2 separate regions of the Homo sapiens genome follow, and region 1 is linked to region 2. Evidence: fine-mapped expression QTL. Tissue or cell type: whole blood. Region 2 holds a variant in brackets; the other region holds the start of a gene. All regions are shown on one strand. Distances are from middle to middle.

Region 1 (11,258 bases), 65 kb after region 2:
TCCTTATCTAATGGCACCATCCTCTACCTCTTCCCTGTTTTATCTCAGAGAGGGGAGGGAGATAGGTGGTTAAAGGTATAATTTTAAATAGGGGTTACAGTAGGCCTTATTGACAATGTGATATTTGAGCTAATACTTGATGTGTAGATATGTGGGAAAGAGTATTTCTGGCTAAGATAATGGTTAGTGCAAAGGTCCTAGGTGAAGGTCAGGCGCAGTGGCTCACGCCTGTAATCCCAGCACTTTGGGAGGCTGAGGCAGGCAGATCACAAGGTCAAGAGATCAAGACCATCCTGGCCAACATGGTGAAACCCTGTCTCTACTGAAAATACAAAAATTAGCTGGGCATGGTGGCACGCGCCTGCACTCCCAGCTACGCGGGAGGCTGAGGCAGGAGAATTGGGAGGTGGCAGTTGCAGTGAGCCTAGATCTCACACCACTGCACTCTAGCCTGGTGACAGAGCGAGACTCCATCTCAAAAAAGAAAAAAAGTCCTAGGTGAGAGGATGTCTGGGGTGTTCAAGGAGACTGAGGAGGCTGACATCACGGGAGCAGTGGGTGAGGCAATGTGAAAGAGAGGTCAGAGGAGTGGCGCATGGGACAGGGGGCAGTGCAGCTCATGTAACACCTTGTGGGCCATTGAAAAGCCTTTGGCTTTTACCCTAATTGAGATGGGGAGCCACTGGTGTTTTTAGCAGAGAATTGAATGGATCTGATCTGTAATTTAAAAGCATGTCTATTTGCTGCATTGAGAATAGACTGTGGGAGGGGGTTGGTGTGGAAGTGGGGAGATCAGGTGGGTGGCGGTTACCATAGCCAGGCCAATGATTCCCAAACTTTGCTGCAATTGGAATCACCTGGAGAGCAGTGAAAAATTCCCAGTGCCCAGATTACATCCCACACCTATTAAATCAGAATATCAAGGGGTGGGAGTCAGGCATTAGCATGTTTAAAAGATCCTGGGTTATTCCAACGTGCAGCAAAACTTAGGAACCACTGAATGAGGCCAGAGATTATTGAGACTCAAATCGGGGTAGTCAGCAGTGAAGGTGGTGAGAAGTGTTCAGATTCTGAATATAATTTGAAGATTTCAACAAGACTTTTTGACAGATCAGATGTGGAATATGAAAGGCAGACAGCAACATCAAATGTGACACCAAAGCTTTTTGACCAAGGGACTGGAAAAATGTAGTTATCATTAGATGAAATGGAGAAAATTAGGTGGAGAGGTGTTTCAAGGGACTGGCGGGGATTGGTTTGAACTTGTATTTTCGGATGACTAGTGAACAGGAAGACACGAAAGAGGTTGACACTGGATATCAGTCGAGAGCCATCGGTATGTGAACGAAATTGAAAGCTACGAAACAGGGTGGCTGTGGAAAGGAAAGAGACCGAAGATGAAGCCTTGGGGTATTTTATTATTAACAGGTTGAGAAGCGAGGGAATAACCAGTGAAGGAGACTGAGGAGCACTTCCAGGGAGATGGGATGAAAACTAGGGGAGTGGTTATCTGAAAGCCAAGTGTAGGAGGTTTGTCAAACAGGAGGGAATGATCAACCAGGTCAAATGCTCCTGATGGCTCAAGAAAGATAAAGGTTGAAAATTGACCAGGATCATTGTGGACTTTGACAAGAACAGCTTTAATGGGATGGGAAGGGTGAAGGCTTGACTGGAATAGGTTTATATTAGCTTGAGAGGAAAGGAATTTGAGACAGTAAGTAGAGACAACTCTTTTGAGGAGTTGTGGGGTTTTGTTTGTTTTTTTGGAGACAGGGTCTTGCTCTGTCACCCAGGCTGGAGTGCAGTGGTACAATCACAGCTCACTGCAGCCTCGACCTCCCAGGCTCAAGTGATCCTTCCATCTCAGCCCCTCAAGTAGCTGGGACTATAGGCATGCACCACCATGCCTGGCTAATTTTTATTTTTATTTTTTGTAGAAACAGGGGTTTCCTTATGTTGCCCAGACTGGTCTTGAACTCCTGGGTTCAAGTGATCCTCCTGCCTCAGCCTCCCAAAGTGCTGACACCATGCCCAGCCTAGGAGTTTTGTCATAAAGAAGTGCAGAGAAATATACTAATACCTGGCAGGGAAATGGAGGTCCAGGGAGTGTTTGTTAAGGTGGAATGAATGACATCAAATCTGTTCACAGATGGGAATAATCCAGTGGAGAGTGAAAGTTTGGTGAATTAGAGAAGAGGAGGAAGTACTCTACATGGTTCTTCAGTTAGAGAGAGGGATGGAATCTGGTGCACAGAGAAGGGATTGGCCTTTAATGGGTGCATGGATAGTTCATCTAGCAACAGGCTGGAGGGCAGAGCACCGGATAGGTGGTTGGGGGTGATGATGAGGCTCTGTGGACGGTCTCATTGCTTCAGTGTTTTCAGTGAGCTCAATGGAAATTCAGCCTGAGAGAATGGAGAAACATCTAACAGGCCTAGCATTCAGGCGTCCAATAGCAGGTGCCAAGGACTACCATAAAGAACCCCAGAGGCTGGACCCAGTGGCTTACACCTGTAATCCCAACACTTTGGGAGGCCAAGATGGGAGGATCGCTTGAGCTCAGGAGTTTGAGTTCAGCCTGGGTAACATAAGGAGACCTCATCTCTACTAAAGTTTTGTTTTGTTTTTGTTTTTCTTTTTTTGTTTTTTGTTTTTTTAAGCTAAGTGTGGTGGCACATGCCTGTAGTCCCAGCTGCTTGGGAGGCTGAGGTGGGAGGATCACTTGAGCCCAGGAGGTTGAGGTTGCAGTGAGCCGTGATAACGCCACTACACTTCAGCCTGGGTGACAGAGTGAGACCCTGTCTAAAACAAACAAACAAAAACAAGCAAACAAATAAAGGAACTCAGGAAGCTTTATTTTTTTATTTTTTGAGATGGAGTCTCCCTTTGTCGCCCAGGCTGGAGTGCAGTGGCCTGATCTTGGCTCACTGCAACCTCTGCCTCCCATGTTCAAGCAATTCTCCTGCCTCAGCCTCCTGAGTAGCTGGGACTACAGGCACACACTGCCATGACCGGCTAGATTTTGTATTTTTAGTAGAGACAGGGTTTCACCATGTTGGCTAGGCTGGTCTCAAGCTCCTGACTTCAGGTGATCTGTCCACCTCGGCCTCCCAAAATGCAGGGATCACAGGTGTGAGCCACTGGGCCTTGCCCCAGGAAGCTTTAAAAATGCTCAAAATTAATTTTAATAATTAAGTAATTTAGTAGCATTTGTGGTTAACTGTTGAAGCTAAGAAATAGCCAGTAGAGGGAGAGCTGAGCACACGTGACATGAATGTAAGCGTAAGGTGTGATTTTGCCTAGAGAGATCAGTATAAGACTCAGCATCCAGGATGGCATTTGTGCTGACTTTCTTTGTTCTGAACTTTAGCCTGGTGTTTCTGTGGTTTTCTTATGGAGGAGGGACGTCATCTTGCCAAAAGTTCAAAGCAGTTTTTAAGACCACAGTCTAAACATTTATCTTCAATTCTTTCCCTGTTCTGACCTCTTTACCTTCTGAATCCCCTCTTCAGACTAAATACATACCTAGAGTACTGAGGGTTGTCTTGGTAATGACTGAGTTGGCCTTTAAAGGTAACATACACCCTTGGCCCAGCACAGTAGCTCATACCTGTAATCCCAGCACTTTGGGAGGCCAAGGTGGGCGGATCATATGAGATCAGGAGTTCGAGACCAGCCTGGCAAACATGGTGAAACCCTGTCTCTACTAAAATTAAAAAAAAAAAAAGTCAGGCATGGTGACGCACCCCTGTAGTCCCAGCTACTCAGGAGGCTGAGGCAGGAAAATCTCTTGAACCCGGAAGACGGAGGTTGCAGTGAGCTGAGACGGCGCCACTGCACTCTAGCCTGGGTGACAGAGCAAGACTGTGTCTCACAAAAAAAAAAAAAAGGTAACACACACCCTGAAGCTGAGGGTTCAAGGGACAACTTTTTCCCTGTATGTGATGTGATGGTTTGGGTTGCCAGACACAGCAAAGTGGAGTGGGTTTTATTTTCTTCTCTCCTGGACAGCACTTTCAAATTTTTGTTTTCTGGGTTTATTAAAAATATGAATTTAAAATTAGATGGGCGTGATGGAGCATGACCATGGTCCCAGCTACCCAGGAGGCTGAGGTGGGAGGATGGCTTGAGCCTGGGAGGTCGAGGCTGCTGTGAGCTATGATCACGCCACTGCACTCCAGGCTGGGTGACAGAGCAAGACCTTGTCTCTAACTAAATAAAGACATAAAAATATACGGATTTAAAATTTAAGTTCCAGAAAGAGGTGTAAAGCGGTATATCACTCATTTCTACACTCAAACAATCCAATGTTGTTTTATTTTTGGCAAATGTTATTTTTGGTGAATTTTAAGACTTTGGGTCAAGAATAACTTTATATTTATTATCTCATATCCTCCATCTCTCCCAGTCATGTCTTATAGTTGGGTGTCGGGGAGCCAGTGCTTTGTCTGTCTTGGAACTGGGGCATTTTTCCTGTCTGCTCCAGTGAACCAGTCATCTGAATATTGTTCACCCTCAGAGAAAAGATGCTGTGGAAGGATGCAGTGATGCACTTGGAAAGGAAAAAAGACATCTGTCTACTTGTAGGAACATGGCAGAGAAGGGTGCAAGATCCCCGTTTCATGTACCATTTAGATTTTTTTTTTTTTCGAGATGTAGTCTTGCTCCATCATCCAGGTTGGAGTGCAGTGGCGCGATCTTGGCTCACTGCAACCTCCACCTCCCAGGCTCAAGTGATTCTCTTGCTTCAGCCTCCTGAGTAGCTGGGACTACAGGGTTCTGCCACCACGCCTGGCTGATTTTTTTTTTTTTTTTGTATTTTTAGTAGAGTCAAGGTTTCACCATGTTGGCCAGGCTGCTGTTGTACTCCTGACCTCAAGTGATCTGCCTGCCTCAGCCTCCCAAAGTGCTGGGATTACAGGAGTGAGCCACCGTGCCTGGTGAATTTAGATTTAAGTGAAAGAAGACAGAATAAATCAGTATCTGTGGGAGGAGACCATGGTAAATAGCTCCCTGATGGCAAGTTGGTTTCACTTCTGCTGTGTAAACGTGGCTTTGTGATTGTGGCCCAAAGGGCTACGTACCCCAGCTGGTTCCAAATACCTGAACCAAGGAGAAGCTGCCACCATCTCCTCTGTGGACTCCTGTAACCAAACCAGAACTTTTTTTTTTTTTTTCTGTTCAGTGACATCTGGTAAGTTGTTTCTTTTATGTAATTTGTACTGTAACTTGTGGTTGATTTTTTAAAAATGGACCTTAATTTTTAGAACAGTTTTGAGTTTACAGGAATATTGAGAAGATAGTTTAGAGCATTCCCATGTAATTCCCACCCAACTTCCCCATTATCTTGTATTAGTGTGGTACATTTGTTACAACTGATGAACCGATACTGATACGTTATTCTTAAACTAAAGTCTGTGCTTGATTCAGATTCTTGGTTTTTATCTAACGTCTGCTTTCTACTGTGGCATCCTATCAGGATAGCACATTATATTTAGTTATGTTCCCTTAGGCTCCTCTTAGCTGTAGCGTTGTTTCTCAGACTTTCCTTGTTTTTGATGAATATGGCAGTTTTGAGGAGTACTGGTTGGGTATTTTGTAGGCTTCTCCTATTGGCATTTGTCTGATGTTTTTCTCATTATTAGACTGGAGTTATGGGTTTTGGGGAAGGAGTCCCAGAGTTAAAGTGCTGTTCTCATCACATCATATCAAGGGATAATATTGTCAACATGATTTAGGACTGTTGGTGTTGACCTTGACCACCTGGTAGAGGCAGCGCTTGTCTGGTTTCTCTGCTATAAGGTGATCCTTTCCCTGCTCCAATCTCCGCCGTGTTCTCTTTGGAAAGAAGCTGCTATGCACAGCACACACTTAAGGAGCAGGGAGTTTTATTCTACCTCCTTGAGGATGGAGTAGCTACGTAAATTATTTGGAATTCTTCTGTATATGGGACATTTGTCTCTTCTCTCTCCTTTGATTTTCTTAAAGCAAGTTATTTCTTGAGGGAAAGTGAATTTTACTTTTCTGTTTGCTTAAGTGAATTTTGGGGGTTTGGTTTGTTTGTTTTTGAGGCTTCGGTCTGTTACCCAGGCTGGAGTGCAGTGGTATGAACATGGCTCACTGTAATCTTCACCTTCTGGGCTCAAGTAATCCTCCTGCCTCAGCCTCCTGAATAACTGGGACTACAGATACATGCTGCCATGCCCAGCTAATTAAAAAAAAAATTGTAGAGATGAGGGTCTCACTTTGTTGCCAAGGCTGGTCTCAAGCTCCTGGGCCCAAGGGATCCCCTCTCCTCTCAGCCTCCCAAAGTGCTGGGATTACAGGCATGAGCCACCATGCTCAGGCTGTTTAAGTGAATTTTAAGGCTATGTAAAAAGGCCAGTGGGCTAGAAATGGGGAGAATCAGGTTTTAGTTTGAATTTTACAGAACAGTGTGATCTTAGGCAAGTCATTAATCATTCCTCCCAAAAGAAAACAGCTATTGCAGAAATTGCTGGCAGGTGTATGAATTCCTGATAAGGAGGGAAGTGTCATCTTATGCCTCATTAGCTTTAACAAGCTTGGGAGAGCAATATGAGAAGATTCAAATTCGTTTCGCTAGAATCTGCTAAAGTACGTTATGAAAATATCTGCTTATTTTGCTTACCTCTTTACCTAGGGAAGAAAGATGGAGAAAAACATGTCATCCTAAAGCCTCCCTTCTACTACGACTGCTTCTGGTGGCCACATTTCTAATTCTGAACACATTAGCCGATGTGTTAATGCTGAAAACATACCTCTTTTCCTTTAGAGATTTGGAGGCCCTTGTTTCACTTTTGCTTCTGAGCTAATGTGTTTAAATTGCTGCCTTGGGACATCCCTAGTTTGGAAGAGCAGTGCAGTGGCCAACGAGGTGGTTAGGAAATGTTGCCAACACCAAAGTTACTTAAACCTAAACCCAAACTCAAAGAGAAAGGAAATAAATTCTAAATTTCATCAACATTCTATCATTTCATTAACAGTCTCCTCCTCTTCCTTCTTTCATTCTTCAGCTCACCTTCTTGTGAGAGCAAGAAAAAACTTGACCAAAGATTGTTTTTTTTTTTTTTGAGATGGAGTCTCACTCTGTTGCCCAGGCTGGAGTGCAGTGGCATGATCTCAGCTCACTGCAACCTCCGCCTCCCGGGTTCAAGCGATTCCTCTGCCTTAGCCTCCTGAGTAGCTGGGACTACAGGCATGTGCCACAACGGCTGGCTAATTTTTTGTATTTTTAGTAGAGACAGAGTTTCACCGAGTTAGCCAGGATGGTCTCAAACTCCTGACCTCATGATCTGCCCGGCTCAGCCTCCCAAAATGTTGGGATTACAGGTGTGATCCACTGCACCCAGCTGATCGAAGATTCTTTAAGGAAGATGGTAGAGCATCCTCAATGTGTTTGATCAATAGGGACAAGAACGGGAGTCAGAATCTCAGCTAAGGTGGCATCTGTTCCCCAAAGACTAACAGACGTGGCCTGGATGACACTAGTACTGATTTCTAGTTTAACTACCTTCATAAAATATTCAAAAAATAACATTTGTACAGATGCATAAGTGCCTGCAGAGCAATTTTGCATTCATTATCACATTTAATTCTCACAACGAACTCTTTTTTATTTTTTATTTTTTTGACGTGGAGTCTCGCTCTGTTGCCCAGGCTGGAGTGCAGTGGTGCGATCTCAACTCACTGCAACCTCTGTTTCCTGGCTTCAAGTGACTCTCCTGCCTCAGTCTCCCAAGCAGCTGGAATTACAGGCATGCTGCACCATGCCCAGGTAATTTTTGTATTTTTAGTAGAGACAGGGTTTCACCATGTTGACCAGGCTGGTCTCGAACTCCTGACCTCAAGTGATCGGCCCACCTTGGCCTCCCAAGGTGCTAGAATTACAGGCATGAGCCACCATGCCTGGCCAATGAATTCTTGATACAGGTATTTTTTTTAAAACCAATTCTATCCTATATGTGGAGAAATAGAGGCTCAGAGAGATCAGGTGATTTGCTCTGTGTTGCATTGAAGATTGGGAGCAGGAGCAAAAATCCAGGCATTCTGACTCCAAATCCCTAATAATTTTTGCTCCACCATTCACATCTGGAATATGGAAGCCCTTTGTTTGCAGATACTGTGACCACATTGTTTCCTGCTGTACCCCCAGTATCTAGAACAGTGCCTGGTGCATCATAGGCACTCACAAATATTTGTTGAATGAATGGATGGATAAATAAAATAGTAAATATAATTTCTGCTATTCTTGATCTTACCATCTAAGATATATATCTATATCTAGATCTAGATAGATCTATCTAGATATAGATACAAAAAATTATATCTATCATCATTCATTCAACAAATTATTTAGTGCTTGCTGTGTACCAAGTACTTCCCATATTTATTAAAAGTAGAGAGTAAACCAATGTTAATGACCAAAATGCCCCTTTGAGAAACTTTGCTAATTTAAGCATTTAAATTTAAGTAAGTAAATAGTGTTGGCAAGGGTTAATGATGCGAGGCAAGGTAGGGTGAAATGAGATTCTGCCTAAGGAGAATAACTAGGGGAAAAGAAAAGGACATTTGTCATTTGTAATAAACACATTGAATTTTGCATTGAACACAGAAAAAATGCAGTGAAAATGTATTCCTCTGATAGTCTCTCTCTCTCTCTCTGGCTTGTTTTACTTCTGAGGGTGTCTTCAAGTTTGCAGGCAGTAAGGTTGGGCATGGTGGCTCATGCCTGTAATCCCAGCACTTTGGGAGGCCAAGGTAGGCAGATCACCTGAGGTCAGGGGTTCGAGACCAGCCTGGCCAACATAGTGAAACCTTGTCTCTACTAGAGATACAAAAATTAGCCGGGCATGGTGGCAGGTGCCTGTAATCCCAGCTACTCGGGAGGCTGAGGCAGGAGAATCGCTTGAACCTGGGAGGCGGAGGTTGCAGTGAGCTGAGATCATGTGCCACTGCACTCCAGCCTGGGCGATAGAGCAAAAACTCCATCTCAAAACAAACAAACAAACAAACAAAAAAACAAAGAACAACAAAAACAAAAACAAAAAAGCAGTTTGCAGGCAGTAGCTTCAGCTTCAGTTCCTGCATACAATTCTATCAAGTTGCTACTCTCTCTCCCCACTCAACAGCCTTCCTTCTCATGAAATGCCTTTGCCATGCATTTGAGGGAACCCTCCTTTGCGGGCACTACTCCTTCCATTGCCCTATGCCTGAGCTCCAGGGGGCTTGTTTAAATAGTGCCTATTAGAGGCTGCTGAATGTGATGAAAAGAACATTGAACTTGGAGTCAGGAAAACTGAGTTTCAGCCCTCATTGCCATAATCTTACTATGTGACCTTGGACAAGTTTCTTCCCCTTCCTGGTCCTCAGGGTCTGGATCTGTAGAAGAAGGGGCCCTAGCATTCTTTTTTTTAAGACGAAATCTCGCTTTGTTGCCCAGGCTGGCAGTGGCGTGATCTCGGCTCACTGCAACCTCCACTTCCTGGGTTCAAGCAATTCTCCTGCATCAGCCTCCTGAGTAGCTGGGATTACAGGCGCGTGCCACCACACCGGGCTAATTTTTGTATTTTTAGTAGAGATGGGGTTTCACCATGCTGGTCAGGCTGGTCTCAAACTCCTGACCTTGTGATCCACCTGCTTCAGCCTCCCAAAGTGCTGGGATTACAGGCGAGAGCCACCGCACCCGGCCCGCATTCTTTATTCAATGCCATGATATGCAGCTGTTCTAGTACAGGAATGACCTGCGTTTGTGTTGCCTCTGTGATTTTCCTGTAAGAAAAAAAACAATAAGCAAACACAAACAGAAGAAAAGGAGGGGGAGAGAAGCAAGAATAACTGTGAAAAGTTACAATTATTTATCAGGAAATCAGTTCTGTGCAGCCTTCCTATATCTAGCTGAATGTGCACAGTCTTATTTAAAAGATGCTATTCTTAGGTTCAGTGCACATGAATGTAAATAAGCACTAAAAGCAAAACTTCAGTGCTAACCACATAGCTGAAATACAAGCAAAATAAACCACACAGGCAGAACCTTGCTTATCTGAGCAATAAATTTGGACTGTTATCAATTGCTTCTCCACAGAAACCAAATTTTCACAATGAACACCACCATTCCTTCCCTTTGGGGGGAAATAGACTGCAGGATGATTTGAAGAAGGACTATACTCCTGTAGCTCATTTTCTCCTTAATACAATGCACTTGAAATCACAGTGCTCTTGGTGTACTGCTCTTGGCCACACGGAAGCCCTAATCATTGGTACGGTCTCAGTTTCAATGACAGGTGACATTTTCAAAATGAGAATTTGTGTCTTTTTAGCACCCATCTAAATCAGAGAACACTCACACTTTAAGGACTAGTTCAGTCTTTGCCTTACACATGGGAAACCTGAGGCCAGGGTGATAAAACGACTTGTCTTAAGTCCTCCAGCTTTATTGATGGGTGGTAAAGCTGGAGCTGGAAGCTTCCACACCAGATTTCCAGCCTAATGTTCTTCCCACCTCATCATTTAGTTCAACCCAATGACTATATACTGAATGTCTGTACCAAACTACCCCCATTTGTTTATCGCTTTTCCTTTTTATGTACTTGGTGTTTATTTTCTTCTGTCCTCTTAGCCTTTTTGCAAATGATCCCTTTCCATTTGCTAGTGTTTTTGTTTGGTCATCAAATGATCCCTTCCTGCCAGTCTTTGAACATTGGCCAAAGGAATTTGAAGCCCAATCCACCACAACCAAACCACATAATTTCCAATGATTCCAAATTTCAGTTAGAGTTCACAAATTACTTGTATACAGAAACCATAGATGCTGCTACGGAGGAAGTTGTGTGGTTTTCTGTCTTCATTGCATGCAGCTAAACCCAAACCAACCCCAGCTAGTTACATGCTAACGGCCCTTGCTGGACACTGTGTACTGTTGATTTAGTAAATGAAGTCAAATGAACTAAAGTTCTTGTGATTCTGAAAGAAGCCAAAACTACTACCCGTATTCCAGAATTCAGTGACCACAGCTGCTTCTGCTCTAAACTCAAGGCCCTTTGATTTTGTGCCCTTTAATCCACAGCTCTCTCAATTGAAGGTCCCTAATCTTAGTGTCTGTATGACCACGACTCTTATCAACTTGGTCTATCAGTTCTTTTGTACTTTATCCGGCTCCACTGTTTCCTCCTAGAATTTGAATTCCAGCACACCAGCTGTCCTGGAGGTCGACCATGGATTTGTTCACTGGTTGTATCATA
Region 2 (8,000 bases):
AAGTCGTGGCTTAACAGAGCAGAGACTCCTGAGTGGAAACTGCTGTGAGAAACCAACACTAAGGTAAGAAAACCTGAATTCTAACCGATGAACTGCTGGAGGCTCAGACAAGTCTGAGAGTTAAACACTCCGGATGGGCCAACTCCTACAATATTGTGAGATTTACCTCCAGTAACCTGGCCAGATCCTCACATTAAATATCAGAGAAATAAACCCTTCTGCTTCTGGCTGGGAGAGGGGAAAAGAAACCATTTTGAAACATGACCTAGCACTGCTTTTCTTAATTAAGGCCTTCCTGCAGGAGAAACTAGTTAACCAGAGCCTAACTGACCTGGGGGAAGGAAATATCCAACTCCTGCCCACTCTAGTCATCCTGTCCCATCTAAGGGCGTAGGAAAAACTGAGAAACCCTTGTGATGTTCACAGTCCAGGGGCATAGGCTCACTGAAAGACTAAGACCTAATCACAGGACTAGCGAACACTTCTCCCCCATCATCTTACCATCGGGTTACTATAAGCCTATTTACAGCAATTCCTTTTACCTAGAACATTATATGTCCGACTATGAAGAAAAAATTAGAAGGCATACCAAAAGGCAAAAGATACAACTTGAAGAGACAGAGCAAGAATAAGGAACAGACATGGCAGGGATGTTGGAATCATCAGACCAGGAAGTTAAAACAACTATAATTAACACGCTGAAGGCTCTGACGGAAAAGGTAGCTAGAATTTAAGGACAGAGGGGAATGTAAGCAGAAAGATGGAAATCTGAAGAAACACTAAAAAGAAATGCTAGAGATCAAAAAATCACCGAAACAGAAATAAAGAATGCCTGTGATGGGCTTATTAGTAGACAGACATGGCTGAGAAAAGAATCTCTAGGCTTGAGATATTATCAAGAGAAACTCTGAAAATGGAAAAGCAAAGACAACAAAGACTGAAAGAAATAGAACAGAATTTCCAAGAACTGTGGGACAATTACAAAATGTGTCACACAGGCCGAGTACGGTGGCTCACACCTATAATCTCAGCACTCTGGAAGGCCGAGGCAGGAAGATCACTTGAGCCCAGAAGTTTGAGACCAGCCTAGACAACATAATGAGACCACATCCCCACAAAAAACGGAGGCACATGCCTGTAGTCCCGATTATTTGGGAGGCTGAGGTGGGAGAATGGCTTGGGTAAGAGTGAGACCCTGTCTCTAAAATAAATAAAAGGTGTAACATGTGTAATAAGAACACCAGAAAGAGAAGAAACAAAATAATATAAGAAATATTTGAAACAAGTGACTGAGAAATTCCCAGAATTAATATCAGACACCAAACCACAGATCCAGGAAGCTCAGAGAATACCAAACAGGATAAATGCCCCCAAAACCTACATGTAGGCATTTCATTTTCAAACTACAGAAAATAAAAAGATAAAGAACATTCCTGAAAGAAGCTGGGGAGGGGGGGAAACACCTTACGTATAGAGAAAAATAAAAATTATATCCAACTTCCCCTAAGAAACCATGCAAGCAAGAAGAGAGTACAGTGAAGTATTTAAAGTGCTGATAGGAAAAAAAACACCCGCCACCAACCTAGAATTCTGAATCCTATGAAAGTATTCTTTCAAAGGATAATAAAGGAGAGAAAAAGGCTTTCTCAGACAAAAATTCAGGGAATTTGTTGCTAATAGATCTGCCTTGCAAGAAACGTTAAAAGAAATTCTTTAGAGAGAAGGAAAATGATATGGGTCAGAAACTCAGACCTACATAAAGAGAAATGTTGAACAAAAACAAGGGTAAAATAAAACCTTTCCTTTTTCTTATTTTAAAATGATCTAACAGAGTTTGTTCAATAGCAACAATGTATTCAATTATGTATGCTGCTATAGATAGCTTATGTGTGTGTATATACATACATATATACAAATGCTTACTTATGCATGTATTTAAGTGAAATGAATGACAGCAATGACACACAGGACAGGAGGGAGGAATTAGGATTATTTTGTTATTATAAAGGTATCACATTACCTGTGAAGTGAAGTGGTATAGTGTTATTTGAAAGTGAATTCAGATTAGTAGTAAATGCACATTGCAAATTCTAGGGCAACCACTGGAAAGAAAAAGTAAAAAAAGAAGAATAACTGATATGCTAAGAAAGGAGAGAAAATGGAATAATACATAATGCTTAATTAAAACCACAAAGGGCAGAAAAAGAATGGAAGACAAAAATAGAAACAAAGAACGAGGGCAGCAAAAGCAGTGCTTAGAGGAAAATTTATAGCACTGAATGCCTATATTAGAAGAATAATCTAAAATAAAAAATCTAAATTTCCATCTTAGGAAACTATGAGTAAATTAAATCCAAAGTAAGCAGGAGAACATAAATAATAAGAATTAGAGTGGAAATTGAAATTGAAACAGGAAATCAACGGAGAAACAAATCAATGAAACCAAAAACTGGTTCTTTGAAGAGACCAATCAAAAGCTGATTAGCCTCTAGCCAAGCTAACAAAAAGGAGAGGATGGAAACGCTTAGTATCAGAAGTGAAAGAGGAGACATCACTACGGAGCCCACGAACATTAAAAGGATAACAATGGAAAACTATGAACAACTCTATGCCCACAAATTTGATAACCTAGATGAAATGGACAAAGTCCCTGAAAGATACAATCTGCCAAAACTCACAAGAAGAAATACTCAATCTGAATAAGACTCTATCACTGGTGAATTCTACCAAACATTTAAGCAAGACTATGCCAATTCTCTACAATCTCTTTCAGAGGACAGAAGCAGAGGGAATACTTCTTAGTAGTTCTTAACTCATTCTGTGAGGCCAGCATCCTTAATACCAAAACCAGACAAAGAACTTACAAGAAAACTACTGTCTGAGTCTGTTCGAGCTGCTCTAACAAAATACCATGAACTGTTTAGATTATGAACAACAGGAATTTATTTCTTCCAGTTCTGGTGGCCAAGATTAAGGTACTTGCATATTCAGTGCCTGGTGAGGGCCCACTTTCTCACAGATGGTGCCTTCTTGCTGTGTCTCATATGATGGAAGGAATGAGGCAGTTCTCTGGGGCCTCTTATATTGAGTAACTAACCCCATTCATGAGGGCTCTGCCTTATTAACCTAATCACATCCCAAAAGGTCCCACCTCCTGATGGTATGGATTTCAACACATGAATTTTTATTTTTTTGTGGGTGAGGAACATTCAGATCACAGCAACTACAGACCAACATCTCTCATGAACATAGATGCAAAAATCCTCAACAAAATATTAGCAAATGAAATCCAATGTATCAAATGCATAAAAAGAATATGTTGAAACCAAGTGCGATTTATCATAATTTATCAAAACAATGAGCTAAAGTAGAAAATCTCACAATATTAGTCGATACAGAAAGTGCATTTGACAAAATCCAACACCCATTCATGATAAAAGCTCTCAGTAAACTAGGAATAAAGGGGAACTTCCTCAACTTGATAAAGAGTATCTAAAAATGCCTATCGCTAACACCATACTTAATGGTATCCAGTTAGAAAGTCTTTATTCTCACTGGATGTGTCTAGTGTTTCCTCATGACCAGAGGCCATGAATTCTTGGCAGGAATACCACAGAAATGATGCCCTGTCTCAGTGAATAATATAGGCATGCTATATTGACCTGTTTCATCACAGGATGCCCTGGTCAAGACTGCGTCTGCCGGCTATCTACACCATGGTCACCATTTCCCCCTTTACATCTGAGTAATATTTTATGGGAAGAAATGTCAATATCATGACAACACCCTGTTCCTCATCAAACCTACAACTACTAGTCTCATATTGACTGATGACTCCTGTGTCTATCACCTAATGCTATTGTAGTATTACACCAATGTAGTGTAGTACTGTAGTATTACACCAATGTAAATGCTATTAGTAGTAGCATTTACTACTAATCTAATGGTTGCCAAATAGTTACTATTTCTACCATCCCTTCTATATTTACTAGTTGACCTTGTATGTAAGGAAGACTTTTCCCTTCTTTCCTATTTATCTATTCATTTATGTATATCAGTACAAACTTATGGATTCCTATTTTATACAAGTTTTTAACTAATATTAACATTATTTATTTTGTTGCTGACATTAGATTTTTGCCAGTGGGTATGCATTCAGGCTGGTTTCTGGGTCCTTCTGACATGACCTGTCATTCTTTGATTATTTACTTACTCTCTGGAAAGACAAGATGTTCTGTGTTCATCCT[G/C]TATGTTTGCTGCCCAGCCCTGGAAATGGCCATTTTTCTAAGCACTGATTTCTTTTAGTGGAGAGTGGCTTTAGAAACTATAATCTTGGAACTCACTGTGTTTATTACTGCTGGGTGTCATTGCCTCTAGAACCTCTCAGTACATACTACTAAGAAATATATGCATGCATACACACATACACACACAGAGAGAGACATATATTTATATATATAAACATACACGCTATAACTATTTCTATATATAAATTTTTAAACCCGTAAGTTCATACTGATAATTCCAATACTAACATGGTACGTTGGTGTTCTTTTCAGCTTTCACCTTTTAAATGTTTGTAAATCCCTTCAGGGAGTGAGAAAACTGGCTCTCCTTATCTTTAGGACATCTACTCATTTGCTAAATCAAATAACTTCTTTGCTCAATGTAACTAATCTCCCAACAACTGCAGTTGCCATCTCTGCACTCCCTCTCCTTACCTCTGCATCAGTCAGGTGCCAGGCACGCTGCTGGCCACGCTTCAGGTGCACTGTCTCCACAGGCAGTGGGAAGAGGGGATGGGAAGGTAAGGGGAGATGATCTCTACAAATATTTTTAATAACAAACTGGTACTTTCAAAAGACATTAAAATTTCAATAGACGTAAACTCTCTAGGGAAGGTTTTACATACAGTGTTGGTAAGCAGAACTGTATGATAAAAAGACCCAGGAGGCTGCTACAGAATCTGTGGGGCCCGGTGCAAAATGAGAACATGAGTCCTTGTGAAAAAAATTATTAATAATTTCAAGACGGTGACAGCAGAATATTAAGCCAAGTGCAAGACCCTATGAGACTGCATGGGTCACATATCCTTGAAGCTGGCCCTGATTACCAGAGAGCACAAGTCAGTGAGGACCTGGTAACAGAGGCATTCACATTGATGCTGACAATTCACAAATGTCCTCAAATTTACGTCTGCCACTATGAGAATGCAACATGGATTCAATGGTCTTTGGTAGTATCGTGCTGCGAGTATACCAGATGGAAGTTTTTCCTCATTAAGGAACAGAAATGTGGTAATTGCCAGTTTCAGTGACAAAGTCTTTTTCACTGAAAATGAAAAGAGATAATTCTATGTATGCTGAACATGTTCAATGGACAGAGTACTGCAGTAAGCAATCTGGACTATATAAGCAGGCATTGTTACAGTCTTCTAGGAGTTGAAAACCTAGATGAGATTACTGACTATCTGAGCTTGCTGCATTCATCTAGGTAGGAGTTAAAATTATTTTTACGTTTCTCCATTTGATTCAATCTAGTTCCACTTTCTTGGCCTGAAGATCGATTACATACAAGAACATTCACTGTTCTATTTCAACAGGTAACATTTCAAGCTTAGAGGTGCTGATATTTGCAATTTGCTCATCAGAAACCTTTCAAGTGATGTCTAGGCCTTTTTTTGTCTGCAGTTGCTCATACTTCAGAAACATGCTTGGGTTGTGAATTGGTATTCCTATTCTAATGTTTCATGATGATTTAAATATCACATCAGCAGACAGCTGTCAAATAGCCTGAGGGCAGCAACAGTTTAATATGGCTCCATCATGTGTCTGGACAGAATTTTACATTTAATCATTGACTGCACCCTTCAGGGCTGGAACACAGAATCTTCTATTAGGATGCTGCTTCATAAAAACACCCTGGAAGATGTTCCTAACTCAACTGTCATAAAACTAAAAAGTATAAATAGTCTTTTTAAAAAAAAGGTAATGGGTAGGGCAGGGTGGGGAAAATAACCAATTAAAAACATCAAGTAATCTATCAGTAAAATACAGTAAAATTTTAAAAGTGTGAAACATTGTGTTCTCACTCAAATTATCTTCCTTTCCTCCATTCTCCCTTCTGATACCTGCCTAAGTTTCTTCTTGGCCGGGCATGGTGGCTCACGCCTGTAATCCCAGCACTTTGGGTGGCCGAGGCAGGTGGATCACCTGAGGTCAGGAGTTCGAAACCAGCCTGGCCGACATGGCGAAACCCCGTCTCTACTAAAAGTATAAAAATTAGCTGGGCGCGGTGATGGGAGCCTGTAATCCCAGCTACTCAGGAGGATGAGGCAGGAGAATTGCTTGAACCTGTGAGGCGGAGGTTGCAGTGAGCTGAGATTGTGCCACTGCACTCCAGCCTAGGTGACAAGGGTTAGACTTCGTCTCAAAACAACAACAAAAAAAAGGTCCTTCTCCACATAAACCTTGTAAGTTCAGCTTCACCAGTCAACAGTGTGTTGCCTATAATTGGTGGAAGCTGCCACTAGGTGAACCTCCATGGAGGCTATGCAGATTTTCTAAAGGCACTGAACAGAAAGACACAAATGATTTTCCTTTACAATGATTTCAAACAAAAATAAATAAACTATAATTATTAAAAATCATCTGGACTAAATATCCTGGAAGGAGACTTTTCTCCTTTGCCAGTGGTTTCTTCCTAGCAAGACATAACTAATATCAAATTAAACAGAGTCAGGGTGCTTAACTGTAGTCTTAAGACTAACAGCAATTTTCTACAGTCTCAGAATTGCTCTAAAACTTTAAGGCTGAAGCTAGAAAAAAACATTGCTGAGTAAAATCCCCATGAGTCTCTCTTCCCAAATCAGAAAGCTTCTCAGCCACTTGATGCTGTATAAACACTCAGCCTTCTCATACACATTTGACTATAATGTTTAAGTTAGCAATTAACATTTTTCTGAGCACTTTTATTTCAAAATTTTACTATCTAGCTTTTGATACAGGTTTCTTTTTTATTTTATTTTTTTTTGAGATGGAGTCTCACTCTGTCACCAGGCTGAGTGCAGTGGCACGATCTCAGCTCACTGCAACCTCTGCCTCCCAGGTTCAAGCAATTCTACTGCCTCAGCCTCCCAAGTAGCTGGGATTATAGGTGCCCACCACCACACTCAGCTAATTTTTTTTGTATTTTTAGTAGAGACAGGGTTTTGCCATGTTGGCCAGGCTGGTCTTGAACTCCTGACCTCAGGTGATCTGCCCGCCTTGGCCTTCCAAACTGCTGGGAAAACAGGCGTGAGCCACCACGCCCAGCCTGATACAAGTTTCTTTCTAAAAGTCTAGACATTTTAGATAATGTCTGAATTCCAAAATTCTAGTTACCAAATTCTAGTTCTATCTGAATATAAATTTTGAAACACTTTGAAATGGAATTTCAGGGTTTTTGTTTTTGGAGACAGGGTCTTACTCTGTTGCCTAGGCTGGAGTGCAGTGGAGCAATTACATCTTATTGCAGCCTCAACCTCCCAGGCTCAAGTGATTCTCCCACCTCAGACTCCTGAGCAGCTGGGACTACAGGCATGTGCCACCTCATCTGGCTAATTTTTAAAATGTTTTTATTTATTGGTAGAGATGAGGTTTCACCGTGTTTCCCAGGCTGGTCTTGAACTCCTAGGCTCAAGCGATCTACCTGCCACGGCCTCCCGAAGTGCTGGGATTACACACGAGAGCCACTGTGCCTGGCCGAATTTAAGGTTTTTAAATAGAGATATGAAGCTGTTTTACTAGAAAACAGCTATCAGATTGTTATTATGTGCTAAGTGTCCTATACGAACATGAATGTGGCCTCTTGGTTCCCTAGTCTCCTATTCGTTTGGGTGAGAGGAAAGAATTCAAAATGAGGCAACATTTATGAACTTTTTCTGAGCTTTCTCAATAAAAAGACAATATTTATAATCCAAATTTCATGACTGGCAAATTAAATATAAACATACAACTGAT

What was found.
Region 1: it holds the start of NUGGC, and the variant in region 2 is fine-mapped to the expression of NUGGC in whole blood (INTERVAL, PIP 0.96).

What each region holds. Positions count from the first base shown.
Region 1 is chr8:28,077,711-28,088,968 of GRCh38, reverse strand. NUGGC (nuclear GTPase, germinal center associated) reads left to right here and starts at 5,033. Exons shown (of 19, transcript NM_001010906.2): 1 at 5,033-5,194. RefSeq lists an enhancer at 9,746-9,875.
Region 2 is chr8:28,144,072-28,152,071 of GRCh38, reverse strand. All of the region lies in intron 10 of ELP3 (elongator acetyltransferase complex subunit 3), which reads right to left. Among named protein-coding and RNA genes, the nearest start is that of ELP3, 55 kb to the right of the region's middle. The variant G/C (reference allele first, on the strand shown) is at 4,248.